Regions from separate parts of the Homo sapiens genome. Here all the other regions are linked to region 4. Evidence: fine-mapped expression QTL. A gene starts in region 4. Each other region holds a variant in brackets. All regions are shown on one strand. Distances are between the middles of the regions. Region 1 overlaps SLC7A2 (solute carrier family 7 member 2). Region 2 overlaps MTMR7 (myotubularin related protein 7). Region 3 overlaps SLC7A2 (solute carrier family 7 member 2). Region 4 holds the start of SLC7A2 (solute carrier family 7 member 2).

What was found. PIP is the estimated chance that this variant, and not a neighbour inherited with it, causes the effect.
Region 1: its variant is fine-mapped to the expression of SLC7A2 in lung (TOPMed, PIP above 0.99).
Region 2: its variant is fine-mapped to the expression of SLC7A2 in tibial nerve (GTEx, PIP above 0.99).
Region 3: its variant is fine-mapped to the expression of SLC7A2 in atrial appendage (GTEx, PIP 0.99).

What each region holds. Positions count from the first base shown.
Region 1 is chr8:17,535,856-17,543,964 of GRCh38, forward strand. It overlaps SLC7A2 (solute carrier family 7 member 2), which reads left to right. Exons shown (of 13, transcript NM_001370338.1): 3 at 7,463-7,860. The coding sequence starts at 7,485. Among named protein-coding and RNA genes, the nearest start is that of PDGFRL, 37 kb to the right of the region's middle. RefSeq lists enhancers at 1,323-1,824, 1,825-2,324. The variant C/T (reference allele first, on the strand shown) is at 4,458.
Region 2 is chr8:17,375,780-17,383,888 of GRCh38, forward strand. The region is part of intron 1 of MTMR7 (myotubularin related protein 7); the gene reads right to left. It overlaps LOC102724838 (a long non-coding RNA gene), which reads left to right. Exons shown (of 4, transcript XR_428318.4): 2 at 4,038-4,389; 3 at 5,689-5,744; 4 at 6,217-6,380. Among named protein-coding and RNA genes, the nearest start is that of MTMR7, 34 kb to the right of the region's middle. The variant A/C (reference allele first, on the strand shown) is at 4,182.
Region 3 is chr8:17,513,728-17,521,836 of GRCh38, forward strand. All of the region lies in intron 2 of SLC7A2 (solute carrier family 7 member 2), which reads left to right. Among named protein-coding and RNA genes, the nearest start is that of SLC7A2, 21 kb to the left of the region's middle. The variant C/A (reference allele first, on the strand shown) is at 3,932.
Region 4 is chr8:17,493,750-17,501,858 of GRCh38, forward strand. SLC7A2 (solute carrier family 7 member 2) reads left to right here and starts at 3,339. Exons shown (of 13, transcript NM_001370338.1): 1 at 3,339-3,488.

The sequences.
Region 1 (8,109 bases), 42 kb after region 4:
TCATGCCACTGCACTCCAGCCTGGGTGAAAGAGGGACACTCCATCTCAAAACAAAAATTTTTTTTACATTTTTTAACAAAAGATAGCCCACTAACATTGAAGTCTTAAGTGTTGTAGAGACTTCTCTGATTCAGGAAGCTTAAAAAACCTTCTCCAGTATGGTAAAATATTCCCGGTGCTTCCCTCGATATCCTTTCCTCCATTACATGAATTATCGCTCTGCCGCTAGCTTACTTCCATAATTCCTTGGCACAAAAAAAAAAAAAAAAGTTTTAAATGTTTTTAGTAAGTACTGTAGAGCCCTTGGTATTCCTGGGGCCCTGACTAGCTCTTACATGCTCCTCATTCCAACAGTGGGCATTGGGAGAAATGATGTTACCGATAATCCAGATTGGTTGTATGTATGTCTAAAAAGAAAAGATATTCTGGCCGGGTGCAGTGGTTCACGCCTGTAACCTCAGCACTTTGGGAGACCAAGGAAGGAAGATCACTTGAGGTCAGGAGTTCGAAACCAGCCTGGCCAACATGGGGAAAACCTGTCTCTACCAAAAATACAAAAAAGAAAATAGCTGGATGTGGTGGCGGGTGCCTGTAACTACTTGGGAGGCTGAGGCAGGAGGATCACTTGAACCCGAGAGGCGGAGGTTGCAGTGAGCCAAGATTGCACCACTGCACTCCAGCCTGCCACAAAACAAACAAACGAACAAACAATTCTACCTTATGTCAAGCTATTTTTTTCAAGGAGAGAGTATATACGTCTGTGGGTAAAGGGCAGAACTAATGCAGGCTAAACACTTTAAGTACGGTATTGGAAAGTGAACAAATTAGAGTTATTCTATCACGGAAACCTCCTTTTGGAAAGAAGAGGAATTCCCAGGAAATGTAGCAGAAATGGCTGAAGGTAGCAGATTGGAAGAGTTGACAGTGGGAGTAGAGTGGGGTGAAGCAGGCCCGCTCAGTACCATCTTGACCTTCGCCATTAGCTTCTGGTTTCAAGGAACAGAGACCACTCTAAATAGCTGAAGTGCACAGGAGGTGTGTCCAAACCATGTCGGGGAATCTTGCACACCCAGCGTTAGAAGCGCAGCAAGGCCTGGGGGGACAGAAAAGCTCCCCAGGCTCCTCTTGCCCTGCCTCCCTGCTGGGGCAGCTGCCTTTCACAAGACTGTCCTCCTCTGAATGAACACTGTATGGCTTCTTTTATTTATTTAGTTATTTTCAGATGGAGTCTCGCTCTGTTGCCCAGGCTGGAGTGCAGTGGCACGATCTTGGCTCACCGCAACCTCTGCCTCCTGAGTTCAAGCAATTCTCCTGCCTTAGCCTCCCGAGTAGCTGGGATTACAGGCACGTAACACCATGCCTGGCTAATTTTTGTATTTTTAGTAGAGATGGGGTTTCACCACGTTGGTCAGGCTGGTCTCAAAACTCCTGACCTCAAGTGCTCCTCAAGCCTCCCAAAGTGCTGGGATTACAGGCATGAGCCACCGTGCCCAGCCCACCCTGTGTGGCTTCTACTGCCAGCCTGTGGGTTTCTGCACCTTGTCAAGCTGGTCCCCAGTGTGTGTGACTTCAGCCTGCACTAGACCATTTGACCGACCTAATCATTTTGTTCGTAAGAGCTTCAAGAACATCTAATTGAGCATTCCCAGCCTTTGACTGTTTAACCCTGAGTCAGATGTCTCTCTGGTCCAGTGATCCTTGGCTTCGGGGTATGAAGACAGTGCTGTGGGGAGGGCAGGAGGCAGTGGCGGGATCCCAGGTAAGGTAAAAAATTCTGGAAGGGGCCATTCCTCATGTTTGCAAAGGCACATATAAGGTGACAGGTCCTAGCAGCTTGGGGAGAGGGAACAGGTTGTACCCACTGGCAGTCAGAGTGACATACTAGCCAAAGATTGCTGGAGACCTACGGGCATGGGCATCTGCCTGGTGCCCAAGCCTGACACCCAGCTCTGGTTGGGAACGCAGTGTGCTGACTGGGCAGGGACTCCGGTTACCAAGGTGCTGAGGGCTTTGCTTTCTTCATTTCAAGTTTTGCTTCTTCTGTTCCCCAAGCCTAAACACAAAAGTTGGATGCTTCATTTAATTTTTTTTTCTGCATCTCTTTGAGCTAACTAGGTATGCCTTATTCCCACTGTGATGTTGCCTTCACTAAAGTGAAATGGAGTCACATGTTTGGAAGCAGCAGCTGTCTTTACAGACTTCCCAGAATTCTCTATCAGCCCTTTATTTGTTGAATGTCTTTGGGAAAAATGCTTGCCTATGTCTGGATTCTATATCAGAAAATTTGAAATACTATGTTTTTAGTCTAACTTCCTGGCAGTACTGATTTGGTATAAAATGGGAGAAAATATCAATGGTTTTATTACAGTGCTTGTAACTTTGTAGTGGCCTCAGTTGTGTTTTTTGTTTTTACCTATGTCTACACTTGCACGAACTTCTCTGGAGAAAACTCTGGAGGAAGAAATTATTCAGAAGACTTGATTTGGAGAAAAGATAAGTTTTGGACCCAGTAAAAGTGAAGTGAATATGGAAGAGTGTTCTGTGTTTTTCCAGAAAGATTCAGGCTTAAGTACTGAATGCCAAGTTTTGTGGTTTCTGTTTTTGCTAATCAAGGCTGAACAGTTACCACATGTGATAGTCTTTTATCCTACATTATACTTTTGATGAATTTGTAAAGAAATTAATCTCTCAAAACTTAGCAAAAAGAATAAAAGTCAATAAATCCATGGTATCATGGCTATATCTTTTTCCTCTTTACTAAATTATTTAACCCACGTTATAATTTGAAAATTTATCTTGGAACTTTAACATTGTAGAAACGTTGGGTTTGGACATTGCAAAATAAAAAAGATCTAGGGCAAAAACAGTATGGTAAAGATCCCTACTTATCTATACGATTTAATTACTTTTTTTTCCATCAGTCCCAAAACAGAAAGAGCAGATGTCTCACCACGAAACTAGCAACTGGAATGAAGATAGAAACAAGTGGTTATAACTCAGACAAACTAATTTGTCGAGGGTTTATTGGAACACCTGCCCCACCGGTTTGCGACAGCAAGTTTCTCCTGTAAGATTTATTGTCAGGGCCTGGGATACTGATATAGAAGATTAAGTTTGAAATGTCAACCTTTACTTAGGGGAGGAAGGGAAAGATTCATTTCTAAGTGACTCAATGCAACTTCAAACTTTTGAACTAAAGTGAAAATCCAGGATCAACTTGTGACTATGATTAGCAGATTTGGAAAGATTTCCTGGAATCGTTGAAAGGAAGTTTGCTCCGTCAATGTCATCAGGGTTAGGGATTTACTAGACCTAAAATTCTATACTGTCAAGTTGATGGCCTGGGCTGAAGAAGTTTTAGAAGGAGGTAATTCCAAGTTGCTGAGGAAGGAATTTAGCTTTTTGGCAAGAATTAATAGGGACTTATCAAGGAATAAGGTGCGTAGAAATGGTTATACTTAAGTTTGGGGCACAATGGGCGTGGGGCTAAGAAAGATCTCACATGTATCATTAGGCTCATGAAAATCATTCAGAGACTTTTCTGCAGCACAGCATATTGCTAGTTCCTTCCAGCCCTCCCTTCGCTAATTCTATTTTCAGATCTAAGCTAATATGCACATATTTATCTTCCTCAAGAGACGCCACTGTCTCAGCAATTAATAAAATAATTGCTTATTGAAGAAAGATATCTGTTTCTGGTATTGCCAGAATCACTTGTGACCTCATAGGGATGTTGATCAGAGCCTTATATTCTAAGGCCAAGGACAGGGGTGTGAGTTTTGTATGGGCCACTTCCCAAAATCTGCATCATTGTTCTTATACTACATGCGTGTAGGTTTCGTATTAAATATGAGTCCTTGGTCACAGTAGCAATAACTGACAATGGTTACAATGGTGCAGATCATCTGCTCCTGGAAAAACAAAGTCTATGCCCTCCAGATTAATGGAATCACCTCCAAAACCCCTGCATTGTATCTCTGCATTCGTATTTGTTGTATAAGTAGGAGGGATGTTTTTCTTGGGCAGTAAGTCCCCTGTAAAAATGAGAGTAAGATGGTCATAACCATTTCATATGGGGAGCTTATCTTTTTAAAAATGTTAAAGTTATAAAAACTTCAAAGATATGTACATATCAAATTATATCACTAATATTAGACACAAATTTTTTTTCTCATTCTCTTGTTGCCACACTCCTTTCATATATCAGTGTGTCTCGACAAAAGCATATTTTACAAAAGTACGAGATACACTTTCTTCATCTGCTAAGCACTGCATGATACACCTGCTAGGACTCAATAAATGTTTGTTTAAAAATGACTCATTAAATTGACCCAATATGTTTTTTCCTTACTTTTCTCCCATCTCATTATAGTCCTACAAAATTAGTTCTGCATTGTGGCTTTTGCAATCCGTATTTTACCAGGCTGTGCGTAGTTGAGATTGTTTGCAAAGGGCAT[C/T]GAGTAACCTGCCAGTTCTGAGAAGTTTCTGACGTATGTTTTTCTAATTACTCAAAAGCAAATGAATGCTTGACAAATGGGATCTTTGTCTTTTTTCCCCAGAGTAACATGGAGAACCTGACTACCCATAAAATACTTTTCATCTTTAATGGGAAAGAAGTAATTTGCCTACACAGACCTCCCCCCAACCCCTCCAAAAAAGAAAAAAAAATAGGACAGAAGCAGTAGAAATCATATCTTATGTGATTAAAGCTGTGCATTTCTATAAGCAGTCCTGCTTCCTGTGTAATCTGGAGTGAATTAAATTCAATTTCGTATTGAAGAGATGACCATCACTAATTTATTCATTTTGGGTAGCTTAATAATAAAAGCTTTTACTGTTTTAACGTTTTCACAGGAGGTTTGTTTATTGGTCGACTTGCTTATTCTTTTATTTTTATGCTGTTTTTTCTTTAGAAATTTCACAAATAACATCATAATCACAGTACCAGGAAAAAAGGATTTAAAAAAAGTTTACCCACAATCCTATTAGCCCCCGAATCTGTCCTTTGTTTTCCTTGCTTCCTTCCAGATCCTTTCTCTTTAAATATGCAATAGTCGTAGAATTTATATCTTTTTCTCATAAAAGTCAAGGTTAATTAAGTACTCCACCATGGGCATGTTTTATTTGGTTAAATGACAAATGGGTATGTTTATCAGTTGTGTTCCCGGAGTTGTATATGACATGTCTCATTTTCAAGTGATCTTAAATCGTTAATGAACTTCAGTGGGTCTTTGTTTCTGAGCACTTTTCAGTTGGCAGTGGTTCCTACTCCTTGATCTTTGTACATCTCTGTATAAAAATGCTTAAATATTACAGAAGCTCAGCATTTAGTAACTACCTTTCCCATCCCTCCTGGCCCCCTCAGTTGGTTTTTATATAACTTTTTGCTTCTCAATTCTTTTTAAGCAGAACACTTATCTTCTAGATATATGAGAAAGGGCTATTTAAGGGTTAGCCAGTGGTAGAAATTGATAAACATTTGATTTATGGAAGCATTGATAGGTTTTGACGTTGAAAACCTGAATATGGGCAAAACTGGAGATGTCAACGTCTTTGCAGATTTTCCCATAAGCATTTGTGAAGTGCCATGCTTTGGCACTCTGTCAGGTTGGCACAGAAGATACTGAAGATGTGTGAAAGTTTGTTTTTATCATCAAGGAACGTGTCCTCTATTTTTTATTTCTCCTTAGGCTTTTCTTCATATTCTTTGACTTACCTGCTTTCACTATTGGAAGCTTGTATTTATATTTATATTGATGTGTGGATAATGTTCCTCAGTTATTTTCTCATCTGTTGACTTATATGTTTTGGTAGACAATCCCATGTACAGCTCTTTCATTTTTGATATTTCTTTTGCATATAAGTTGTACATATTCATTGGAGACAAATTAGAAATAGGTATTAGCAATGTAACATATGAAATACAGAGAAGAACCCACCATCTAAATATAATTACTGTTGATATTTTGAATGTTTTGCTTTAAGTCTTTTTACTGTAATATATGCCTATGTATTTTTTCTTAACTAATATTCACACCTTGTTTTATAACCTGATTTTTTTTCAGTGTTAGATTGTTTAGGCTTGCAGGAGGTGGGGAGTGTGACTTTTTGTCTACTTTATTCATTCCATTTTTAAAAGAACATAGAATAATATTTGGCATGGACTTTGGACTTATTTATCTAGAAATCTCAAATATAATAAGCATGTGTATTTTAGTACAAATTCATACTTAAAGCATAGTTGAATAGCACTTTTAGATTTCAGCAGGCCTTGAGAGGTGATTTTTTAAAAATTCTAAAAAGTTCACATCTGCTTCACATTCATTGTTTAAAATGAAAACAGAGAAGCTCACACATGCTTGATAAAGCTGTAGAATACGTAATGATTAAGTTTTTACGTGCTTTTAGATGATAGCTAAGTCCTGTAAGGCTAGAGACCCCATCTATGTAAGAGATCATTCTACACATATTCCCAGCACAATTCCTGGTATTTAGTAAGGCCTGAAAAATCTGGGCCAGGCATGGTGGTTCATGCGTGTAATCCCAGCACTTTGGGAGGCCAAGGAGGTAGGACTGCGTGAGCCCATGAATTCAAGACCAGCATGGGCAACATAGTGAGACCCTGTCTCTACGAAAAATAAAGAAGTTACCCGAGCGTGGTGGCACATGCCTGTGGTCCCAGCTACTCAGTAGACTAAGGCGAGAGGATTGATTGAGCCCAGGAAGTTGAGGCTTCAGTGAGCTATGATCACGCCACTGTGCTGCAGCCTGGGTGACAGAGTGAGACCCTGTCTCAAAAAAAAAAGAAAAAGAACCTGAGTTAAATGGATGGTTGAAGTAAAGAGAGACAGAACCCAAAAGATGAGGCAATTCACTCCTTTCCTTGTAGTGAGAATGAAATTAGCCATCTCTTGAAATATATTTCTATCAACATATCCTTAGGAAATTTTTAGCTTGGACATGGTGGCTCACACCTGTAACCCCGAGGTTGAGCTACTCCGGAGGCTGAGGTGGGAGGATTGTTTGAGCCCAGGAGGTTGAGGCTGCAGTGAGCCAAGATTGTGCCACTGCCCTCCAGCCTGGGCGACAGAGTGAGATCCTGTTTCCAAACAAAAACAGAAACACAAAATTATAATATGCAAACAAGAATGGCAAATCTTTTTAATCACCCAAGGCTGCTATATTCCTTTGCTTGCCACATAAGCCATTTATTGCAGTCTCTTATAAGGGGACGTGTATGCTACAGGAAATTGAACTACAGGAAATTCGAGGCTCTGGTTATTAAACCTTCCTTCTGACTGCTCTGGGTCACTGCATCTCTTCTAACAAGTGAAACACACACACACACACACACACACACAAACACACACACACACATACTCTAATTGTGCCTGGAAGCTAGGTTACCAAAGGGAGGGATGACAATTCCAGATCAGCTTCTAACCTCCTCCCTTCTGCTCAGGTCGCCTTCGTCAGACGTCAGAATGATTCCTTGCAGAGCCGCGCTGACCTTTGCCCGATGTCTGATCCGGAGAAAAATCGTGACCCTGGACAGTCTAGAAGACACCAAATTATGCCGCTGCTTATCCACCATGGACCTCATTGCCCTGGGCGTTGGAAGCACCCTTGGGGCCGGGGTTTATGTCCTCGCTGGGGAGGTGGCCAAGGCAGACTCGGGCCCCAGCATCGTGGTGTCCTTCCTCATTGCTGCCCTGGCTTCAGTGATGGCTGGCCTCTGCTATGCCGAATTTGGGGCCCGTGTTCCCAAGACGGGGTCTGCATATTTGTACACCTACGTGACTGTCGGAGAGCTGTGGGCCTTCATCACTGGCTGGAATCTCATTTTATCGTATGTGATAGGTATGTTTCAAAAAGAAATCTAACTTGTGTGGAATGGAAGAAATCGCAGCCCTGAGTCACAGCCCTTAGGTTCAGTTGTAGGTGTTGGGTACATCACTTGATGTCTGTGTGTCTCATTTTTGTCATCTCGAAAATGTCTCCTTCTAATTACAAAATTCTGTGGGTTTTTTTTAAGACAGTCTCACTCTGTCGCCCAGGCTTGAAGTGCAGTGGCGTGATCTCAGCTCGCTGCAACCTCTGCCTCCTGGC
Region 2 (8,109 bases), 120 kb before region 4:
TTTCCAATATTTATCTTTTTTCCTTGTATAATAGCATTAATTAGAAACTTCAGAGTAACTATAAATAGCATGGAGACTACAGTCACTCTTGCATTGTTTTTCCTTTGTTGAATGACAGCTCTGTTGAGATATAACTCATATACCATACGGTTCACCCATTTAAATGTACTATTCAATGGTTTTTAGCACATTCACAACACTGTATACACTGCCACTGTGCAAACATTAACGCACTATTTTAAAACATTTTCATCACCGCAAAAAGAAATCCTGCACCCACTACCAGTCACATCCCAGTTATTCCCCCAACCACTCCGGCCCTAAAAAAATCAATTTACCCTCTGTCTCTATAGATTTGCCTATTCTGAACATTTTGTATAAACAGAATCATACAACATGTCATACTTTGATAGTGGTTTCTTTCACTTAGCAATCATGTTCTCAATCTACGTTTCAATCCAAGTTCATCTATTCATAGAATGTACCAGTGCTTTACTTTTTGTTGCCCCATGATATACCATTATAGGGACATATCATATTTCATTTACCAATTCATCAGTTGATAGACATTTCAGTTGCATCTACCTTTTGACTACCAGGAATAATGCTGCTATGTACTTTTGAGCATAAGTTTTTGTATGGACATATGCTTTCATTTATCTTGGCTATACTTAGGAGCAGAATTGCTGGGTCATTTGGTAAGTCATATAGTAAGGCTTTTGAAGAGCTTCTGGACTATTTTCCAAAGCAGCTGTGCCATTTAATATTCCTACCACCAATATACAAGGGTTCCAACTTCTCCACATCCTTGATAACACTTATTATAATCTCTTTTTTTGATTATAGTCATCCTAATATGCGATCTCATTGTGGTTTTGATTTGCACTTCCCTGATAGCTAACAATATTGAGCATCTCTTTATGTGCACCCATTTTTAATGGAACACTTATTATCTTTTACCATTGAGTTTCATGCTGATATTTATTATCGCATCGTGAAAGTGACCTAATCCTAGTTTACTAAGAGTTTTGATTTTTTAAAATCAGAAGTGAAAGTTATGCCTTTTTGATATGTATTTGGATAAATATTTGTTTTTTTAACTCTAGCCCTAAATTATCAATAATAGTAATAGATTTCCTAATCTTTAAAGGAGTCTTGTGTTCCTGCTATATGGCCAACTTGAAATCACGACTACGTAATTCATACACAGTCATTATATATTGATATTTTAATTCCTTGTATTTTTCCCGCCATAATTGTTATTTTGATTTGTTTTTTTTCTTTTGCATCTATACTTTTAAGAGAGAACCTCCATGCCCTAGCCTATTCATGCTGCTGTTATCAAGTGAATTAACCATGGTTATGATTACATCAATTAATCAGGAAGCTTTCAACATACAAAGTATTTATTAGTTGAAACAAGTATAGTACTTCTTTACACAGAAATCTTTAGTAATGGTTTCAACTTCTTATGTGGTTACAGATCCGTTCACTGTTTCCAATTTTTACTAAATCCCATTTTAATATTATAATACCTTTACAAATTATCTTACTGCAGATTTTCAAATTTTTACAATCTTTTAATTCTTATCTGTGGGTAAACCCCTCTCTTCTTATCCCTTCCCTCATTCCTAATACTGTGAATTGTTTTCTTTTTACCTCTTTGTGATTAGACAGGCAAAGGTTTTTCTTTAAAGTAACAGGTGTTGGATATATCAACTTTATTTTTCTTTTCTACTTTGTTAATTTCTGGTTCCTTAATAAATGTTTTAACTTGCTTTGCTTGGGCATGCCATGTGGTTTTTGTCTGTCTGTTTCTAAATTTTCAGATTTCACAGTCAGTTTGTTAACTGTCATTCTTTTTGTTTAATAACAAAAGTTTTTAAATTCAATCATTTTCCTCCAAGTATATCTCAGGTTTTATCCTGTGAATATTATTCATAGTATCCTCATTCTTCTTTCTAGATGGTCTATAATTGCACTTTTTATTTCTTCTTTGACCTGAAAGTTTTTAAGGGAAGCATTTTCCAAATTCTCATATGGTTGGGATATTTTACTTAAACTTTTGTCATTAAACATTCTATTTTAAAGTAACTACGATAAAGATATTATGAAAGTATGGGAGGAGAAAAATAAGGGGATAGAAACTTTATTGAGATAATCATATTGAGCATAAGATAATACTTTGAGGCAAAAATATTTGATATGGATTATTCTCCCTACAGAAGTAGAGGAAGCTGTATCACTTAAATTATTTTTAGAAAAGCTCAGTGGAGCAGAATAAGGTATGCAGATGTTGAGAGATTAGAATACTACCATTGAGATGGGATTTTTCCATGTCTTTTTGTTAACTTTGGATGCTGCTGCAGGAAAGTCACATTCCAAAATTTGGCAATAGTTCCTACAGGTCCCAGAGCTGTCAAAAGTAATTTTGAAGATACAGAGAGGGAAAAAAGAAATAAGGAGGGGAACACCAACAGTATGATTTCCCAGAGATACTAACAATTAAAAATGAATTATAAAAATTAAAATTCAGTTGTCTTAGAAACGTTATGAAGTCAGAAAGCACTGTTCAGGGACCACCTCACAGTTTATACTAAGACGTTGAAAACGATCTAAAATGAAATAAATTTCAGAGTTTGGGCACCATCTTGAAGACCCACTGACTCAGTAATTCAGCCTTACTGTTGGGCTAACTTAATTCTGTCTCATCTATACATATATGCTGTACATACTACAAAGTAATAAGGCCAGTTTTATACTTAGGGAGAGCTAAGACTAAGGAAACAACCAGCTTCTCAAAACAAAATTGTTGCAACTCATTTGCCTGCTCCCAGGAGCACTATGCTTAAGACATACGAGGTATTCATACTCTGAAAAAGGCTATGGAAATCTATGCAAAAGATATTACACTATATTATTAATTCTTGGATGTACATTTTTTACATTCTGGTATTTCTAAAAATGGGACACATCTGATGACTGATGTGTAAAAAGCTATTGTGTCATTTCATTGGCAGTGCTTCTTTCTTCTTTTGTGGTTCATAAAATCTTGCTGCCTCTTAGCATCACTGATGTCTTAGATTTGTTGAAATGTGATAAATTTAGTCTTTAGCACATAAAAGATAATAATTGAAGCCATGGGACTAAAAAAGGTTACCCAGGGCGAGCAGGCAGAGTGAGAAGAGATCTGAGGAAAGCCCAATGTTTAAAGGTCTACATGAAGAAGAGGAATCAGAAAAGCACAGAAACAAAGAAATGGACAGGCAGGAGGACAATCAGGAGATTCTGCTATCAAGAGGATAGCAGAGATAATATTTTAAGAGAGAGGGAGTGTCTATGTCAAATGCTGCTGAGATGGAGTAAGGCAAGAACTGTAAGTGGCCCACTACATTCAGGAACATGGGGGCACTGGTGGTCTTAGCAGGAGGGGTCCTGGAAGCATGAGGATCATAACCCATGAAAGAGCAGCTTGAGGTGTCAACTCCCAGGCACTGAGAAAGTAGATACCACTCTTTGCCAAAGTGGGGTTTGAGCGGGCAGAAGCAGATAGTCTGACCACGCGAACTCCACCCCGGAGCAGCAAGAGCCACGTTAGCTTTTCAGAAGCAACTGGCACGTCAAGACATTTGAAGGAAAGATGCCTGTTAGTGCTACCAACCGGGGCATCTGCACTTGTGATACACACGGGAAATAAAATGACTCCATTAGGCCGGATTGAGAAATACATTTTAAAGGATTAGAAGGAGATGGGGATCGCTGAGCAAAGATTTGTTTATCCTGCTTGTATTGCTTCTCCAATCCTAACAAACTTTCGCCCCCAGCTTTTAGAACTTGCCTTTTTAAAACTAGGAAACATGTACTTATTTACTTAATGTTTAAAGATTTGGAAATATAACAGGAAGAGAAGAAAATCACCCCTAGGACCATAATCCAACACAAGCACTGTTAGTCTTTTGGGAAAAATGCCTATACCTCATGTTAAGTGTTTTTGGGGTTTTTTGATTGTTTGTTTTTGTTTTTGTTTTTTTAATTAGGTAGTGAAGCACCACAGGAAATAATCTCCAGGGATGGAGTGAACAAATCTAATCTAAACTGTCTGAAGGCACCGTTTCATTGCAGTATCAACCCTTCCTTTGCCAAAATCTTCAGAACAGTTGGCTATATACCATAACGCACTG[A/C]GGGTTTGGAGGAGGGGAGAGTAATTAAGGAAGAGCTAGGTAATTAAGGAAGAGCTGTGCCACAAGACAATGACACATAAACGGATGGTGAGTCGATCTGCAACGTGAACTAATTCAGCAGCAAATGATTATGCCAGAAGGGACTGTGAAAATGCAAACCTCCATGGGAACTGGCAGAAATTCTGTGGAAAGCTTTGGACTTCTGAAGGTAAGAGAACTGGGGCATTTCAAAGAACTCCACCAATATCTCATGAATCAGGCCAACCCCAGTTGTCAGTTTGTTTATGAAAAATCACCAAATAACAATAAAAACAATAACAAATATTTTTTGATATTCGACATCCATGCACTGCACAATCACTCTATATACCTGAGCTCAAGTTAATCCCCACAGTAACCCCCTGAATTATAGGTTCTTGCATAATCCCCATTTCATAGTTCTGTTGAACTTGAGACTTGACAAACTTTCCCAGATCCTGCAGGGAACAGGTGGCGTGGCCCGGCCAGCATGGGTCTCCAACCTTTCGGCTTCCCTGAGCCACACTGGAAGAAGACGAACTGTATTGGGCCATACCACACACGTAAAATACACTAACAACAGCTGATGAGCTTAAAAAAAAAAAAAGGACCATGCATAATTTTCATGATATCCACCACCACAGACAGGCAAAAACATCCTCAAATTCAAAGGGCAGGACACCCGTGCTAGAGCTAAGGTCTGTCTAACTTCAAAGCCACGTTCATCCTTCACCATGGCTGTGGTGAGCACTTGTAAATGCCTTTGAGGTCATTGTAGAATTGTTATTCAAAATTAATATGTTTAGCATAGACAGTTAATAATTATTGTAAGAAATCTTATACATGAAATTAGTACTTGAAAATAGAATGCTTTAAGACAAAATTATACTGTAAAACTATATTCACAAACCACTATCACAATATTATTCTTTTAGATAAACCCAAAAACAAAAAGCTTGGCAATGGATACAAGAGCCCAAAGATTGACACTAGCAGACTTCGGGTATTCTCAGAACTAATGAAAGAGACAGAACACTAAACATCTAATTCCATTCAAAAAGATGCCTATGTGTGGCACTGTGTCAGGTTCCGCAAAAAAAAGCAAAAGGGTGAACAAGGTAGCATCTTTGTCTATCTTCAAGAATCTTATAGATTCAATGGAAAAGACTATGCCCCAGTTTAATGGCTTTTTTGAATTCCTGTTCTTCCTCTGTTGGGGTTAGACTGAGGGGAAAAAAGGGTTTCATCATCTTTTCTAGGCCAAGGCTGAAAACGCTCAGTCAAAACCCTGGGCCCCACCACCGCACTTCCAGGTCTGAGGAGGCCACACTGGCGGCCCAACATAGGTCCTCCTTGGCCTTCCCTTCACTGCCTGGGCGTCAGGAAGACCTCATAAATCACCGAGAGTCAGAGCCTTTCTTCAGTGATCCTCTATTGTGCCACCTTCGAATTTCAATCTTAGTAGAATGTGGGTCTTTCTATCCTGCAGGTCAAATATTGAAGTGCTGAACATTCAGGGTTCCAGAATCATCTCAGACTATTTGGGTAAGTAAAGTTGCTCCGTAGGATGAGGAATCCAAAGTGCAGGGCCGGGGTGCCAGTCATTGAAAAGGACAGAAAGCAGTGGCACTGGCTACCGGCTTTTCTCAGGCCAAAGACCAAGTCCTCAAAACCATATAAATCAGGCTCCAGATCACTGTCAGTCATCTGGGGGAAGAGATCCAGGGACTGTTTAACAGAGAGAAATCAAAATCTCTGCAGCAGCCAAAACCAAAGACAAGTTTATGTTCTAATCTAAGAAAAGCAGCTAGATAAATAGTTTGTTGTGCTAAAATTGGTATCATGACATTTTCTAACTCTACCAACATGAAAAGAAAAGTATTTGTGAGTCAAGAGGCCTGGGCTCTGGTTCTGGTTCTGAAATTGAACTGCTGGGAGCAGGCAGTTTAGACATTATCCCTGCATTTTGACTTCTATAAGGGATCTAAAGGGTCTTTAATGTCTCTCTCCTTTCTAGCAGACTGCAGCTGTGACCCAGTGGTACTTCATAGACTACCTACGAGGATACAAAATGGCAACAGTGAAAATGCATACAATAATGACTCAATATTAAATTTTCTGGAAATTAAGTCACTCGGTAACCTGGATGGCCAACACGACTTTTGTGACTTACTGAGGAAAGGAAGCATCAGCCACAGCAGCAATGATGCTCTAACAGCCTCTGAAGCTGGCCCAGAGGCTGCACTGATATCCAGTGTTCTGGTCCCAAAGGACTGTGATAAGCATCCCAAGGCCGAGGGCACCAAGCCCACCAGCCTGGAGGAACAAGCTGCCCAGCCACAGTGGCTCTTTTTCATTTTCCAGATTCCTTCCCCATCTCGAGCTCTTCTTCTTTTTTGCTTCTCTTGGGGAGTTAGGAAATCACTGGCTAGAAACCCTAGAGCACTTGGTAACATTTCCTGAGTTATTTCTGTCTCTCATAATTAAGTATCATTTGGATTTAAAACTGAATTGATGAAGCGTCTTGCTGTACTCAAAAATAAAGACTTTCATTTGACTTTATTTTAAAATCTATTTAGCACATCCATCCGTCCATCCATCTTCTTTTCTTTTTGCAATCTTTAATGTTGATATTCACGCTACACGGCATGCAGAACAATCTTAGTGTCTCAAATGAAATACCCACCCCTTGGTCAGAAAGTGCCTGAGTGATAAGGAGACCTTGTGCAGAAACAAAATTTGAGACCACTACAGTAATGAGAAGCTAAAAATTCAGACAGAGTCCTTTTTTTCTCAATGTTCTTCCACTGTGAGTAGAAATGTTATATGAGCCACAAAATGTGCAGGTGTCAAGCACAAAAATGAACATTAATATTGCACTTTAAAATACACAACAGTTAATGTAGTTCTATTACATTGTGCAGTAATTAGCACAGTGATTAGGAGAATGCAGTGAGGGTGCAGGGCATTGGCTGTAAGAAGCACTCACAGGGCACCAAACTGTCAGGACAGAATGTCTTGAGAGCGGCTGGTGTTCCTCCGAGATATGGGGGGGCCGGGATCCCAGGGCCTGTTGGCAGCTCAGATAAGACACATCCACCACCTGGGGGGTGTGGAAGGTCCCAGGGAAGGGAGCCGCTCTTAGATACCAAGGTTGGGAGGATGGTTCTGGGCATCAGTTTTACCTTTAAACAGTGCCCACCCTCTCAGTCCCTACTTAACTAAGTGCTGATGCCAAATCCAGGCAATCCAGGATGAATTTTTCAGAAAAGCTTATGGCAAAGGAGGCAGCGTAACTGTGGTGCGTTCCTTTTAACCCTTCCCTCAAGCAGAGGGAGCAAGAGGAGGAAGGGTAATAACAACAACGAAAATACTTTTACCACTGACCACACAACTACTGCGCATCAGATACTGTGCTAGGTATTATCCACATGCTACTTCTAACCTTAGCTGAGACAAAGACATGAAGAGCATGAAAAATCAATCAACTGCCCAAGCCTCGCATCTAGAAAGTGGCAGAGCCAGATTTCAAACCAGAAGTGTCCACTTCCCTGGATCTCTCCCATACCTGACCACTTCAGTCTGGGTCTAATATTGCAAATGAAGGAAAAACATCCTGGCTCAACAGTCTCTCCTCCATCGTCCCTGAGATTTCAGTTAGAGAGGAATATGTTTAACAAGTTAAATGCTCTAGCTACAGCTAAAAGATTTGGTATCTGGTACAGACCAGCTTGGCTGGCCATGTGACCTCCCTGCTTGCTCATTTCTCTTGTCTGGAGGGGCAAATCCCCGAAAGACTCGGTTCTCCCGGTGGTCGAGGGATTCTCTGGGCGGAGCTCTGAAGTGTGCACCAGCATGTTTCAAATCGAAAGGTTCAAAGGCCTCCTGCAGCTTTGGAGGAACCATGCAG
Region 3 (8,109 bases), 20 kb after region 4:
AATAACTGTGGAATCTAAGAAGCGAGGCAAGGACATTTGACCAAGCAAAATTGACTTTTTGTCCCACTTACAACAGCGCTAAGAGGGAAAGTTTCGTTCATTCTCAGATTAAGTTATAGGTAAGTGGATTACACCAGAGCACATATTGCCAAAAACCTGTCATCCTGCTCAACATTTCTACCTCTAAAAAAGTAGCAATCAAGTTCTATTTATTCTGAGGATCAGTTATATTCTATATTCATGTGTATAATGGCAGGGATTTAAAAATAATCTGGGTAAATTTGAACTGCAAATAGCATGTAAATATCACTGACCCGTAATAGTCTTAGTTCTTCTCTACAAGGGTATATGGTCAGCCCTTATTGGGAGTAAAAACACCTCGGCACATTAGTGAGGCTTCCTTGACCCCACAGAGTCTCTCAGCAATTTCATCCCAATTCCCTGGATCCAGGTAAGTAACAGACATGAATGAAACAGGCTAGTGCAAAATAGAAAGGGGTGGTGGCAAACTGTGTTAAACCAAAGAGGAATCAATTAAAAAAAAAATACAGTGTGTCCCAAAACACGCATTTGAGTTGGGAGCAGTGATTGATCCAACATTTATAGAGAACCCTGCAGAGTCCCTGACATTGTGGGAAGAATAGAAGTAGAATGAGCCCAGAAAACCCGTGTTTTTATTTTAGATTTCTTTAAATACGTGAGAATACAATGGCATATAATGCAATATTTTCCCTTCTCAAAAATATATCTAGAAAGAAAGAGATGGGGAAATGCACAGCAGCCGTTGGTGGAGGTTGACCCTGGAAGCTAATTCTAGAATAACTTAAAAATGTAAGTTGTTCAGGTTTCCCTTTTATAGCTGTTCTGAGTAGCACAGAAACTCAATTTTGCTTGGTAGAAGGTCCTTGCCTTGCTTCTTAGATTCCACAGTCATTTCTTAGGCTAGCTTTACTATCATTTGATTCAGCCAAAGATGATGTCTTATAGAAATGTTCAATAAAGGCCTCATTCCTAAGCAGATTCTACTTGTTCAAGTTTATGAGTTACAACTACCTGAAGTCTCAGAATCATAGCAGTAATGAGCATAAAGGCAGTGGAGACCCTGTGATAAGTTTTACTGAAATGAGAAAGATAAAATCTTCTCTTAGTTTAGAATATGAATATTTCTGGTATTTGATACTGTTATTGTCTGGGCCAAGTGGATAAAACAGCGTTTCATTTCTGATCTTGTAGGAAATTGTTTTATGTAATGAGTACATACATGGGTAGAGCTATATTGGTAAAGGCAGTGCCTACTATGCTGAATTAAATATTCCATGCAAGGGTACCAGGAAAAGGGGAGGGACTTTATAGTTGCTAACACTGAAAAAAGATTTGTTGCATCAGATGAACCTTTAAACTTAAGAAACGTTTACCAACTCAATATTTATTTGATCTAAATAGTCAGTATGTAATGGTGTGATACACCCGGTACTTTTCCAAAGTCATCAATAATGAGGACATAGCTTGTGGTTTTTAATTTTTTAGTCCCTGTGAATTTATTTGATTGCCTTTGATTGCCACATCTTTTTCTTTTTTTTTTTTTTTAAGATGGAGTCTTGCCCTGTCTCCAGACTGGAGTGCAGTGTCGCAATCTCGGCTCACTGCAACCTCCACCTCCCAGGTTCAAGCGATTCTCCTGCCTCAGCCTCCTGAGTAGCTGGGATTACAGGCACATGCCACCACACCCAGCTAATTTTTGTATTTTTAGTAGAGATGGGGTTTCACCATGTTGGCCAGGATGGTTTTGATCTCCTGACCTCGTGATCTGCCTGCCTGACCTCCCATACTGCTGGGATTACAGGCGTGAGCCACTGTGCCCTGCCTGATTGCCATTTTTCTGAAGGATGGGGATGTTGAGTGGGGTGGCGGGTTTTTGGCAATGTGTGCTTTGCTGTAATGTACCTACCCATATCTGACTATTGGTTTATACAGTACAGAGAACCATGGGCTAAGCCTTACTTTTCAGCCACAAAATAAAAATCCTATCATTAAATCTTAGAATCTGAGTTGGCAGATAACCTTGTCTAATACCCTTCTAACTAAAACTGTTCCACAAAATTCCTCAATCAACTGTCCTCTGTTTTAAGTAATGACAGACATCTGATAGCTTTAGTGGTGGCAGCTTCTTATGGGTAGGAACACTTTTTATTAGGGAGATTTGCATTTTATTGGATCAATGCCTTACTCTTTTTATATGATATCCTTTATTAGTAGTTCTGTCTTCTGAAGTAAATACATAGGATCATTGCCTTCCTACATCTTGCCATTCATGTATTTAAAGAAAGTTATCATCTCTTTTCTATGTCTTTTTCCCTAAGAATGAAAAGAAACTAAATATAGCAATAATACCTATTCGTGATTCTAAAACTTTTTGCTATTTGTCAGACACTTTGCTTGTCCACTTACTCCTTACGATAGTTCTATAACTGTTTTATTTTATTTATTTAATTAATTAATTAATTAATTTTTTTTTTGAGATGGAATCTCGCTCTGTCGCCCAGGCTGGAGTGCAGTGGCAAGATCTCGGCTCACTGCAACCTCCGCCTTCCAGTCTCAAGCGATTATCCTGCCTCAGCCTCCCAAGTAGCTGGGATTACAGGTGCACCACCACACCCGGCTAATTTTTGTACTTTTAGCAGAGACAGGGTTTTGCCATGTTGGCCAGGCTGTTGTCAAGCTCCTGACCTCAGGTGATGCACCCACCTTGGCCACCCAAAGAGCTGGGATGACAGGCGTGAGCCACCGCACCTGGCCTATGTGTTGTCTGTTTTAAAGATGAGAAGACCGAGATGCCAGTGACTTGTCCAAAGACACATGGGTGGTAACTCGTAGAGATTATTAGCTAGCTCAGGGCTTCTTCCCTCTTTGGGCCACAGCTGTACCCTTGCTTATTGTACCTGAACACCTGCAGTTTCTTTCATTGCTCTTTAAGTGATGACATGGTCTCCCAGACCCCTCACCCCATCCAGTTGACTCTTCACTGAACTTAACTGGTCAGCACTTAAGAAAAAGATGGTTTAAGCATTCAAGAAAAACATGGATGCCAAGTATCCATTGATTCAGGAAATATTTGAGTATCTGCCATGTGCCAAGCACTCTAGGTATTTGGGATAAACCAGTGAACAGAGCAGTCAAACAAATCCCTGTCTTCATGCATGGTACACTGAGGGTTCATGTTGTGGCTTAGTCCCTGTCCCCACAATCAACACTGAAGAGGACTTTGAAATAGGGGACAGAAAAGTTGCAGAAGCAGGCTTGTGCTGTTAAGGCATTAAGGTGGGAATTCTATACGAAAAGTTCAAATGATGTATTAAATATGGATCCAATATCTCTGCTCACTCCCCCTTTGCATCACTTTAAACACACATTCCTTGCATGGATTAAGAAAATAATGTTGACTTTAACTGACTTATACTCATTTATTTCTAGGCACAAAATGAGACCAAACAAAAACTTGGCAATAGAAGGAAGAGGTTCCTGATATTATCAGAGGTCATTCGAAATAAAATCCAGGCAAAATGAAACCACAAAAGATGTGATTTGTAGGGCCAGAAGACTTTGCTTGTTCTGAAATGTGTTTTGAATTCAAGAATATGAAGAGAATCAAGAATATTAGAGATTGAGAAGCCCAGAGATGGGTTAGAAATGAACTGGATAAATTGTAAAATGCACACAAGTGTACTAGAAAATGTTACATGTTTTGGTGAAGGCCGTGAAAATCTTCAGCTGCTTATTGTAGGTAACCTTCTTCTATTAAATCATGGGAGATTTTTCTAGCTTAGAGGTATAAGTTTTAATGTGTGTTGGAATTTTTAATACAGACTTAAGTCCTGATGCTTATCTAGTATCTTTCTTTGTTCTTAAACATTGATTTTCCCGTATTGCTTAC[C/A]TTTAATAACTATTACATTTTCAGTTTTAAGGCAGTAATAGTTCATGAATTTGAAAAGTTAAAATCTATTGGAGATGAAGTTTTACAATTCTGAAGTCTTTCAAATATATTTTTGGTAACATCTTGATGACCTTCAAATTTTCTTTCATCAGCGGAGTGTTAGGGGGCTGCCGAGAGCCTGGGAACTGCTAGCATTCTGTTTCTCACTGCTTCTGGGTTATGCAGCATGGAAGAGAGGGCATGGAGTTTGGAGCCACACAGACCTTAGGTTCAAATCCAGCTCTGTGACTTTGAAAAGTTTCTTAACATCTCTGAGCCTTAGTTTCATCATGCAAAGATAGGACATTTCTCCTGAGGTGGTTGTGAGGGTTAAATAAAGTAAGTCAAGAGCCCAAGACATAATAGGAAAGCAATGAATCGTCTCTATTATTAATTTTTATTTTTATATATCAAAGTCTGGGGTACAGTGGCCTTGCTTAAAAATGGAATCCCCTTTCCTTTGAATTACTTTTTCTCCCCATATGATAGTCTCAAATATTTATTCATTTTTCTTTTCTTTCTTTTTTTTTTTTGCACAACATCCAAAAGTAAAGGAAACAATATTCTGCAACTCCATCGATTCTGAGTTTCTCTTCAGTGTGCTATATTAAGCTAGATGATGTCATCATCAGCTAACATTGGCTTTTCACCAAGCCGTGGTGACAAGTTTCTTTCCTTAAGGCATATTCTGGAATAGTGTTTCATCTCAGTTTAGAATGTGTACTTCATAACTGGACTATTTATTGGTAGGAGCTGCCTGTGCTTCACTTTCTGGGATGTGGCAGTTAACACTTTGCTCATCAGAGCACTCTCCTTCCTCAGCCTAGTGTTCATCATGGGAAATTCTGAGCTCTGGAAAAATGTAAACTTCGTGTTTGTCTCTTTAGATGGTGCAAACTAATCAGAAACTTCAGTGGCCACAACAAAACAAAACCATTAGCAAAAGACAAACAAAGAAGCTTTATTTTTTAATTGCAAAGCTTCATTACATTGCTTCTGAAATGCTAATCATTATATTATATTCATTTATGGAGAGTCAGACAGACTTGATTTTGTCTGACATTGTCCTGACATTGATCTGTACTAGCATCTTAGTCTGCTTGAGCTGTCATAGTAAAATACCATAGACTGGGGGCTTAAACAACAGACATTTATTTTTCATACTTCTGGAGGCTAGGAGTTGAGATTATGGTGCCAGCATGGTTGAGCTCTGGGGAGGGCTCTTTTCCTGGCCTGCAGACGGCAGCCTTCTCCCTGTGTCCTCAGTTGGTAGAGAGAGAACACCAGCTCTTCCTCTTTTTATAAGGACACTAATTCCATCATGGGTGCCCCACCCACATGATCTCATCTAGCCCTAATTACCTTCTAAAGGCCCTACCTCCAAATACTATCACATTGCAGGTCAGAACTTCATAGGAATTTTGGGGGAACACAAATATTTTGTTTGTAACAAGCAGCTAGTACTTAACCTCTTTAAGCATTGGTTTTCTCACCTATAAACTAGAGATAATAAAAGCACTTACCTCATAGGGTTGATAGGTAATTCAGTTAGGTTTATATATGTAATACACTTAGCCTAGTTCCTAAAACATAGTACGTGCTTGATAAATGTTAGCTCTCAGTAGTAGCAGCAGAAGTAAGTTATAGTGATGGTAGTATATTTTAGGAGCATGTCTCATTCCAGGAACTTATCAGAACTCTTCTGAAATTATAAATTGATGATTGAATTCTTTTTAAGCAACAGTGATGAGAATCTCTATCTTCGTCCATATTTCTGTCGCCATTTTCTCTTCCTAGGCTAATTGTGAGCTTCCTGTATCTGAATCCTGTTCCCTTTGGCCCTGTCCCTCCGGGTCAGCCTTCACTGAGGCTGTGGAGTATTGGGTTCTTTTCACTATGACCTTGCCATATAGTTAGGTGCTTGTTTCTCATTGCCTGTGGCTCCCTAGTCTTTGCTTCAAACCCTTCACACTTTTTCTCTAACTTTTCTCCATGCCATATCATCATCTCCTTTGTTTACTTCAGGGTCACTTACCTAAAGAGGATGAAAGTTTCTTTGGGGCTTCTGAATAAAGGTGGCCAGGTTCCTAAATATTCACATTCATCTTGCCAAGCAGACTTCTGATTGCCTAAAATATTCTTTATGATGTCTCCTCCATAAAACCTTCTAGAGTGATCCAAGGAGAGCACCCTGCTTCTTCTTCTGTGAACCCTGGGAATGGATTCATTTTTGTTGTCTACCAGTAGACCATCTGATTGATTGAAACATCTTATTCCCCAACAATGACTTGGGAAAAGAAGAGTTTTCTGTGAGAAAGAATTAGTGATGATCAGAGTGAAACATATATGTTAAAGCTATATTATAGTTAGTTTTGAATGCTGTTTGGTACTGATTGTAGAATTTGGGGCATTTTGAGATTTCAATAAGTGATAAAAGCATCTTAAATCTTGAAACATAGGTTATGTGTAACCAATTGCAAACATGTTTTAGGAAAGAATTATTAAAGGGAGAAACTTTTTTATTGTGACATATGTTCCAACTATATTTTAAGACAGTTATCTGAAGCATAGGGGTTCATGAGAATATTTGTGTATGTGGTGTATGTGTATATATACATAAAATGCACACACACGCACACATCCTTTTATAAAAAATATCATGGCTGGGTGCAGTGGCTCATGCCTGTAATCTCAGCACTTTGGGAGGCCGAGGTGGGCGGATCACCCGAGGTTGGGAATTTGAGACCAGCCTGGCCAGCATGGTGAAACCGCATTTCTACTAAAAATACAAAAATTAGCCGAGTGTGGTGGCACACGTCTGTAATCCCAGCCACTTGGGAGATTGAGGCACGAGAATTGCTTGAACCTGGGAGGTGAAGGTTGCAGTGAGCCGAGATGACACCACTGCACTCCAGCCTGGGCAACAGAGTGAGACTCTGTCTTTAAAAAAAAAAAAAAAAAAAAAAAAAAAAAGGAGTACTTTTCCAAACAGAAATTTACTTTCATTACAAAAAAGTTTCAAGGAGGAGATGGGAGATGAGAAGGACCTTGAGAGGAATAAAAGGGTATCTGTAAGTAGAGATGAGCTTAAGCAGAGGATATTTTTAAATAGAGCAGCATGTTTATTTTGTACTCCAGTATTGATTTGTGACCACACAATACTGAAGAAAAAAGATATTTAAGTGTCTTAAAAGCAAATCAGTTCTGTTAATTGCTTTAAAGTTATTTAGATTTTTAACCTACAGCTAAGATACATGTTACGGAAATGACCTTATATAAGCCTGTTTCAGGCTTAGTATTTTTTAGATGAGATTTCCTTTAGAAAGAAAACACATAGTACCATAATGATAGTTACTCTTGCTGATTTGTTGGTATTATTGATTAGGCTAATATATGTAAGGTAACTACATTTTCTTCTACTATTTTTTTTGGTAGTCCTTGAGCCATTTTAGGATACTTGCTTTCTAAAAAGAATACATTTAAAATATGAAATTGTATATTTTGATAGAGGGAGGTCAAATAAATGTTTATATTTCAACAAAATGAAGGGAAATACTTGTAGAGCTTAGGCAATGCTTGGTATACTTTGTGTTTTCCCCACAGACAAAAAACCTCGTAAATGGCCTATGTTGGTTCTTCGGAATTGGTGGCAAGAGGACAGAGTGTAGGATTGTAAGAATTTACGTCAGATGAATTTGGCAGGATTCTGATATTTCCTTGATACTTAATTCTAGGCACACTGTCTGTCTCATTAATTTCTGTAAACGTCTTGGTTAAGGAATTACACTGAGGGAGTTCTGATGTTTCATTCACACTCATCCCTGTCTGCCATCCATCAAGTGCTTCTGGAATTCCATCCTGGATCAGACCACCCAGTGAAGACAGCCGTGGCAGGAGCCAGTAGCCCCAGAGACAGGGACTCTTCACAGGGAGACGTGGCGCTGGGCTGTGGCCTCTTTTCAGCTTTCTGGCAGCAAGCCTCTCATTAGCATGGGGTGCTGCGGTATGCTTGGCCAAGGAGGAAATCTCAAGAGCCGAAGCCTTGAAAACCCAGGTCTTGTGTCCGTGCCCAGAATTATGCATTGCTAGCATACAGCCAGCTGCAAAAGGAAGAAATCAAACCCAAATGTGGAAGCAAG
Region 4 (8,109 bases):
GTCGAGGTGGGCGGGATCACCTGACGTCAGGAGTTTGAGACCAGCCTGGGCAACGTGGTAAAACCCCGTCTCTACTGAAAATACAAAAAAATTAGCCAGGCGTGGTGGTGAGCGCCTGTAATCTCAGCTACTCCGGAGGCTGAGGCAGGAGAATCGCTTGAATCCGGGAGGCAGAGGTTGCTGTGATCTGAGATCGTGCCCTTGCACTCCAGCCTGGTGACAGAGGGAAACTCCGTCTCAAAAAACAAACAAATAGCTAGTGCTCTGACTCTGGTCCAACTCTTTTTCCCTTTTGAGTTGATTCAGTGACAGCACAAGCATTAGTATCCAGTATCCAACCATCTGAAAAAAATTGGAGGATTTTAGCTTGTCTTCGCTAAAATAGTTTGGGGAATAATAGAGTCACAAATTAGAACTAGTAAGAATCCATTCCTTCAGTCTTGCTAGTTGAAGTAAATCCCTTATTTGTGGACATGAGATTTACTTTAGGTTGTATTTGGCAAGTGTGGGAGTACAGGGTGTGGAATTTATTCAGCTACAAAAGTCCCTTAAAATTCCCCGCAATTTCATAAACCCTTAAGAGTTCAGACATGCAAGAATGTTTGTGAAATCTTTGGAAGATGACAACCTAGGCTACTCTCTCTGCTGAAAATGACTAAGTTGGATTTTCTGCTTCATTCCTAAGGAGGAAACTTGACGGCTGAAAGTGAAAAGTGATGGCAATAAACCAGGGAGCGTGAAATAGAAGGTGGGTGCAAATTTTACTCAACTGGGAAAAAGATGCTAATTCAACCCCGGGCAGCAAGAGAAAATGCAAATGAAGATGAAGTCAAAAGAGCTTAACCTGTTTCAAATATTTCATTTCTAAAAATTCGATTCTATTTTCTCTTGTCTCATAGTCTGTCTTAAGAGACTCATACTAAATCCGTGGGCATCCTATTCTTTCCTCATCTAAACACATTTTTAAAGGTGAGAAATAACCAAAGTTATGAGGCAGGATTCAGGGTTAATCAATAATTTCAAACACGAAATGGAATATGTTAAGTCAAGAACTAGTGTGTAAAGATATTCAGCAATCTTGTTAGAAAGTTGTTTGAAAGAATTTGCTCTTTTTTTGCTTAGAGATGAAGTTGTTGTTCTTATTCACACACATGAACACAGCACGTTCTTGCTTCAGGAAGTGCGCCGGCGGGCAGATTGGATAAATTCAAAGATCGGTATTCTGACAAAATTGGCAGTTTCCAAATTCCAGATAAATTTGTTTATCCCAAATCATTGTGTTGTAACTTAATCACAAATTAAACAGATTTAAACACAGAGCCTTTAAGTAAAAATATGTGGGGAAATAATTGCTTAAGTTTAAAAATAGGAATCTCTATTTTTTTATTTTTTCTTTCTTTATTTTAATCAATGTTGACCAGGTTGGCCTCGAACGTGTAGCCTCGCCTCCTCGAGTGCCAGGGCAACCGCCCTGAGCCACCGCGACTCCCAGGAATCTCTATTTTTTTTAAACCAGGTGAAAAATGTTAGACCAGATTACTCACCCTTAAAAATTAGACAAAGTATCTGAGTCATCGCTCCCTTGAACAACGCCTCCTAGCCGTGGGATTGAGGAGGAATCTGGTGTTAAAAGTCCACACGCATCATTTCCCTTAATGTTATTAATGATAATTTGCATAAGGAATCTTTTTTTGACTGTAAAAATAAGTTTACTTTGACAGTCTCTATTACTTAAGACATTTGGTCTATCAGATAATATCTTCGTAATCATAGTGCTGTTTAAACTTTCAGTTTTTTTGTTCGTTTGCTTTTGTTTTTGAGACGGAATCTCACTCTGTCGCCCAGGCTGGACTGTAGTGGCACTATCTCGGCTCACTGCAACCTCCGCCTCCTGGGCTCAAGCGATTCTCCTGCCTCAACCTCCCGAGTAGCTGGGGTTACAGGCGCCCGCCGCCGCGCCCGGCTAATTTTTGTATTTTTAGTAGAGACGGAGTTTCACCCTGTTGGCCAGACTGGTCTCGAACTCCTGACCTCAGGTGATCGGCGCGCCTCGGCGTCCCAAAGTGCTGGGATTACAGGCGTGAGCCACCACCCCCAGCCTACACTTTCACTTTTTGATGAAATCCATGGATGGCTTCCTGAGATACATTGAGATTTTGTGTGTGTGCTATCTTCTGGAATGAAGCCCCACACCGTTTATTAGATGATCTTGGGGATATATGTCTTGAAGGGAAGAATGATTTAGAATATCACATTAAAATTGTATATGTACTGTGAGGCAGCAATACAAATCTGGCACTTTGCCAAAGTTATTACTAGTAGGTGGGTTAAAGGGACGTTTACTCCAATACTATGCAAAGTAAAGTGGACCTTTCTGTCAAACAAAAATAGTAATAGGCCGGGCATGGTGGCTCAAGCCTGTAATTCTCAGCCTGGTGGCTCAAGCCTGTAGTTGTCAGCACTTTGGGAGGCTGAGGCGGGAGGATAGCTTGAGCCCAGGAGGTCGAGGCTGCAGTGAGCCACGATTGTGTCACTGCCCTCCAGCCTGGGCGACAGAGTGAGACCCTGTCTCTAAAGACAAACCACACACACATATACACACACACACTGACACACACTTATTGTTCAATTCAGTGCGTGTTTTGCTTCGTTTTGGATGAAAATTAACAGGCTTTCACATTGTGACTTAATCTTATCAGAGACTCCTAAAGTAAACAATAGCGCAGTAGGAGAAACCCTGATTGTGTAACTTCTGCTCTTGCTCCCCTGGAAATAATGTCATTTCCTATAAACCCACCCCCAAACAATCGTGACTACGTATTCATACCACTGGAGTCTTCCAAAATAGCAACTGCACATTATTTATCAACGTTTAGTTTGCATTTGACAAAGCACATCCACCTGGGCTTCCATTTATCATTGCTATTATTATATTTTATTATTATTTTCTTATTTCCAAAATCTTTGTAGAATGGAAAGTAAACGGGGGGACCAAAACCCCACTTAGAACTCTGCTTAGAAGATTCGGAAATGCCCTTGAGGTTTGGTCCTCCCAGGAGAGCACGAAGTTTATCCTCGCGCGCAGCCTCTCTTCCCCGGCCCGCGCCCACCGGCCTAGCCCGGGGCTAGCGCCCGCCCACGTGTGCTCGGCTCCAGGCAAACCCCGCTGAGCAGCGGCCGCACACCGCCCACCCCGGGGATTGGTCAGCGCGGCCGGGGCCCGGCGGGAGGCGGGCTCGGGGTCGCGTTCCGGGAGCGCGGAGGAGGCGGTGCCGCCCGGCCCCGCGCCCCGCCCCCGCCCCGGGTGGCTACACAGAGGGGCGCCCACGTGCCCAGCCCTCCTTCTGCAGCGCGGCCGGCGGGCGCTCCTCTTCGCGGGACCAGCGAGGCGGCGGCCGCTGCTCCAGCGTCCCCCAGCCGCGGGCCCCCGACGCGCTGCAGCCGGCAGCCCACCGCCGCCTTCTTGGCGCGACCCCAACCCAGCCCCAGTAAGTTGCTAGGTCTCCAGCCCCGCCGAGAGGCCGCGGGCGAGGGGCAGCCCGGACGCTGGGGCCGGCGGGGAAGGAGCGGGGCGAGGGCGCCCTGGGGCCGGCGGGGAACTAGAGGGTCGAGGGCTCCCGGGGACGAGTCCAGCTGCGCGCAGCTGCCCTGAGGCCGCGCTCCAGCGAGTCTTCGTCAGGGAGTCGGGGCCGTGGGCTGGGGCTGAAGCCGTGGACCTTCGTCCTCGGGGCTGCGCCCCGGAATGCGCCTCGCCTCGTCCGGTCCCTGTGCAGCCGGCTCTGCCCGGGGACTTCGGGGACCGCTGGAACTGGGAGAGGGGCTGGCACGGCGACTTCGCGGGGACCCTTCAGTCACTATTTCCAGAGGAGCTCGGCGCACCCCTCTCCGGGTGGGCAGGCTGAACCTCCTGGCCCTGCACGCTGCCGGGGTCCCCGAAGCCGCCTTCGCTCCTTTTCGGTTCTTGGCTTAAATTAGAAAGCCGGCTTGGAGCGCTGGAAGCCCCTTCACATTCTGCAGGGGACCTGGTAAAATAGCCCGTCTTGGTGTTTGTATTGGGTATTTTAAAGTAACTGGGTGCCTTTTAAAATCCGTTTGAGATGGGCTGTATTTTATAAGCCCGTTTCATGAAACGCTGTTCTTGAGGCTTAGAGAATCTCCCAACCCATCACCCCAGAGTACCTGTCCGTTCAGAAAGTACCTTTTCATCCTCTTTTGACGCTTACATCCAGTCTATGGAGTAAGGTATTGAGAGATTGTCATCTTCAACTCGTCGAAAAGAAATATGCTCAGCAAAAGCCACAATCATATGTGGCTTTTGAAGTGGATATAGTGCCTGGATTTCAAGAGAAAAAGTACTCAGCCTCTTCAGAGTTGTAAATATTTGTGCAAAACTGGCTAAAGCCTTTAGGTGACTAATTTTGGACCAGTAATAAGATTTATCTAGACGTTTGTGCAGAAACACTAATCCTTTTAATGAGAGGATATCGTCAGATCTTATTCAAATAAGAGCTCTCTGAATCCCATCCAGGGCCGCCTGGGTTATAAAATTAGAATGTATGTGGCCTTGACTTGATACTTTTTCATTCTTGCCTGAGCTAGTCTTTAAAAGTTAATAATTATCTCCTCCGGAAGGTGAAACATTCTGTGTTTGTAATCTTTCTCTAGGAGATGTATAAGATGTGAATATTCTGTATTATGTACCTTGTTAGGATTGCTTTGTAATTAGTAAATCCTTTTTTATTTTAATTGCACTGAAGCGTGACATGAAATGATCTCTCAGTGCAGAACACAGGACTTCTTCCCTCTCCTTTTCCTACAAAGTTGCTAGTTGCCTGCTCTGGGAGGCCACTTTATTGTGATTTTTCAAGTTTCTTCCCTCGGCCCACACTTTGTTTACATTCTGTGCCTTCATCTGGGAATGGTCATTTACCTTAAGGCATTTTAATCTTTTAGGGTGTGCCATGGCCTTGGAGACCAGAGTAAAGCGCTGTGGTATCTGCGGGGATCAGTTTGCAGAATCCTTGGCCTCCTAAGCAGTGGGCATAGCTCTTTTCATTCCAGAATCTCTGATCATTCCAGAGTCTCTCCTGTCACTGGGCTTAGGAGCCTGGGAAGGCGAATAGAAGCTAGCTGGGGAGACAGGGGAGCTGTGGCAGTTTAAAAAGCCTGATCTTGCGCTGGAGTTTTTCATCTTGCATTCTCATGTATCTTTGCCTTTTGAACACATGTGCCTGAAGAATTTTAAAGTTCACGTTTCTTGCTTTGCACTGCAAGCACACTCACCTTTGCAGAGTGGAAGTGCCTTGTCCCCATTCTAGGTGGTCTACCTTCTGTTCTCTTTTCAGACCTCCTGGCTTAAGCCCTTGTTTCTCCTGGCTGTTATGGCCAGACCCGGAGTCCCCGTTGTGCCCATTTCTTCTCTTTTCAGTCCTTCCTTTTCAAATGTTTTTTCCCAGAAGTCCTCTGGCAACTTCTCTATTTCACCTAGCCTCTGTCTTCTCTTGTTTTATTTTTCCCTCTCTCCCTCCCTCTCTATCCCTCTTTCCCCCTCTTTCCCTCCTTCTCCCTCCTTTCTCTCTTCCTCTCTCTCTGTCTCTCTCTCTCTCTCCCCCTCTCTCCCTCATTTCTCTCTCCCTCTCTCTGTCCCTCTTCCCTCCATTCTCTCTCCCCCCTTCTCTCTCTGTGTGTTCAGAGCCATCTGCTGGTTTTACTTTGGTGCCCTTTGGTGGACAACTTTCAGAACAGAATCTTGGGAGCACCTTCATGTTGCTGTTTGCTTTATTTCCCCCAAACATGTAGATATGAACACACTGATTTTAAAGACTCTTATAGACTACCTACTAGATGCCAAACATTTAGAACAAAAGCAAAAGCTTTCAGTGGAATATATTTCTAAATACTCACATATTTAGTTTTGGGTGCATCATTTGAATGCTTTGTCATCCAAATGAATCCTGAAAAACTTAGTTAACTAAGATTTCACTTAAGTGATAGCACTTGTCTAAATGGGCTTGAAAATCGAAGCTGTTAATTAATTTCTAAAACTTTAATCTGGATATTAAAAACCATATAGATACAACCTTGAATGACAACAGAAAACTAATGGAATTGTTCTTGTCATTGTCTTCCATTTTAATAACTTTTCATTTTAGTACCTAATATAGTATGTGTCACATAACACATGCTTATATGTCTTTATTGTTGAGTGAATGCCACTGATTTCAACAGTTTGAGAAAAGATGTTTTATCTGTCTTCAAATGTATTTATTCCTTCATTGAAAACTTACTTTCTACTCTGTACACTGGAAAATCAAAAAAGTAATGTGTAACTCCGGTTTTAGAGGGATTCTATAATTATGTTTACATTTGGGGAACTCCATTGATGGATTTTAAGAGCAGTTTTTTATTTTGCTGTACTCTATTAAAAAATACCACCACTTCTAAGCAGACGATTTCAGACCTGTCTGTGCCGCAAAGCAAGTAATTTACATGCTCTCTCTAATACATGAAGGCGATGCTACTATTTCATCATCAAAATCACATGTGCTGGACATTTTTATTTTACTAGTAGTAACAAATTTGTCCGCATTCCTCTTATATTTCCCTTTTACTTGACTTTCTAGCTCTTGTTTTAGAAGTGGTGTTTGTGGTTATGGAAATGTTGTGGATGATATTGACAAAACGCAGCCAAATCGGGCAGATCACTTGAGGCCAGAAGTTCAAGACCAGCCTGGCCAACATGGTGAAACCCCGTCTCTACTAAAAATATAAAAATTGGGTTAATAGGTGCAGCAAACCACCATGGCACATGTATACCTATGTAACAAACCTGTGTGTTCTGCCCATGTATCCCAGAACTTAAAGTAAAATAAAAAATAAAAATACAAAAATTAGCCAGGTTTGGTGGCAGGTGCCTGTAATCCCAGCTGCTTGGGAAGCTGAGGCAGGAGAATTGCTTGAATCTGGGAGGTGGAGGTTTCGGTGAGCCGAGATCGTGCCACTGCACTCCAGCCTGGGTGACTGAGCGAGACTCTGTCTCAACACACACATACACACACACACACACACACACACACACACACACACACACACACAGAATCCCAGCCAAGTAGGAGTTCATTTCCATCAGGCTTCAATTAGTTAAGGTAATCACAGCATGAATCACCTATTAATTTTTCTTGTCCATCTTAGTAATGGAAACTGTTATATATCAGTCTATGGAAGCAAGCAGTATGCTGTTGCTTTTCACATTCTTATCGACTTTTTTTTTTTTTTCTGTTTTGAGACAGAGTCTCGTTCTGACGCCCAGGCTAGAGTGCAGTGGTGCGACCTTGGCTCACTGCAACTTTCACCTCGTGGGTTCAAGCAGTTCTCATGCCTCAGCCTCCCGAGTAGCTGGGATTACAGGCGTGTGCCACCATGTTCGGCTACTTTTTGTAATTTTAGTATAGATGGGGTTTCACCATGTTGCCCAGGTTGGTCTCGAAATCCTGGCCTCAAGTGATCCGCCTGCCTCGGCTTTCCAAAGTCCTGGGATTACAGGCCTGAGCCACTGTGCTCGGCCTCTTATGGACTCTTAAAGTTTAAATATTTCTGAGAAAGGCCTCTGCTGCTGTTACGCTGACCTCACTGGTAAGTATAATTAGTATTGACTTGAGAGAAGATTTGAGTTAATAAGGCTATTTTAGAGGCTGGATTTGAATATGTGGGTCACGTCTCTTATTTAGACTTTTAGTATTATTTAGACTTTTATTTAGACTTTTAGTATGAATCTCTCTCTTCAGAGACATGTGGTCCCCTGTTATTCTGGGTGTGTATGGATGTGATGTGTTGTGGAAAATCTTGAAATTTCTTGATACGGGACTTTATACACCCAAGACTGAATCATGAAGCTGGAGCATTCTAGTGCTGCAAATGTCATGAATTTAATTTTTCACCGTATCCCCATCCTCCTGCAAAACATAAAATATAAAATATGTAAAATGAGATAAAAAAATGAAAGCAATACCCACACACCCATTCTGGCACTGCTGCGTACTAGCCCCCCTCTACAGAACTGAGCCTAATCTGGGATTCAGTATCGGGAAGGCGAGTGATGCGAGAACATTC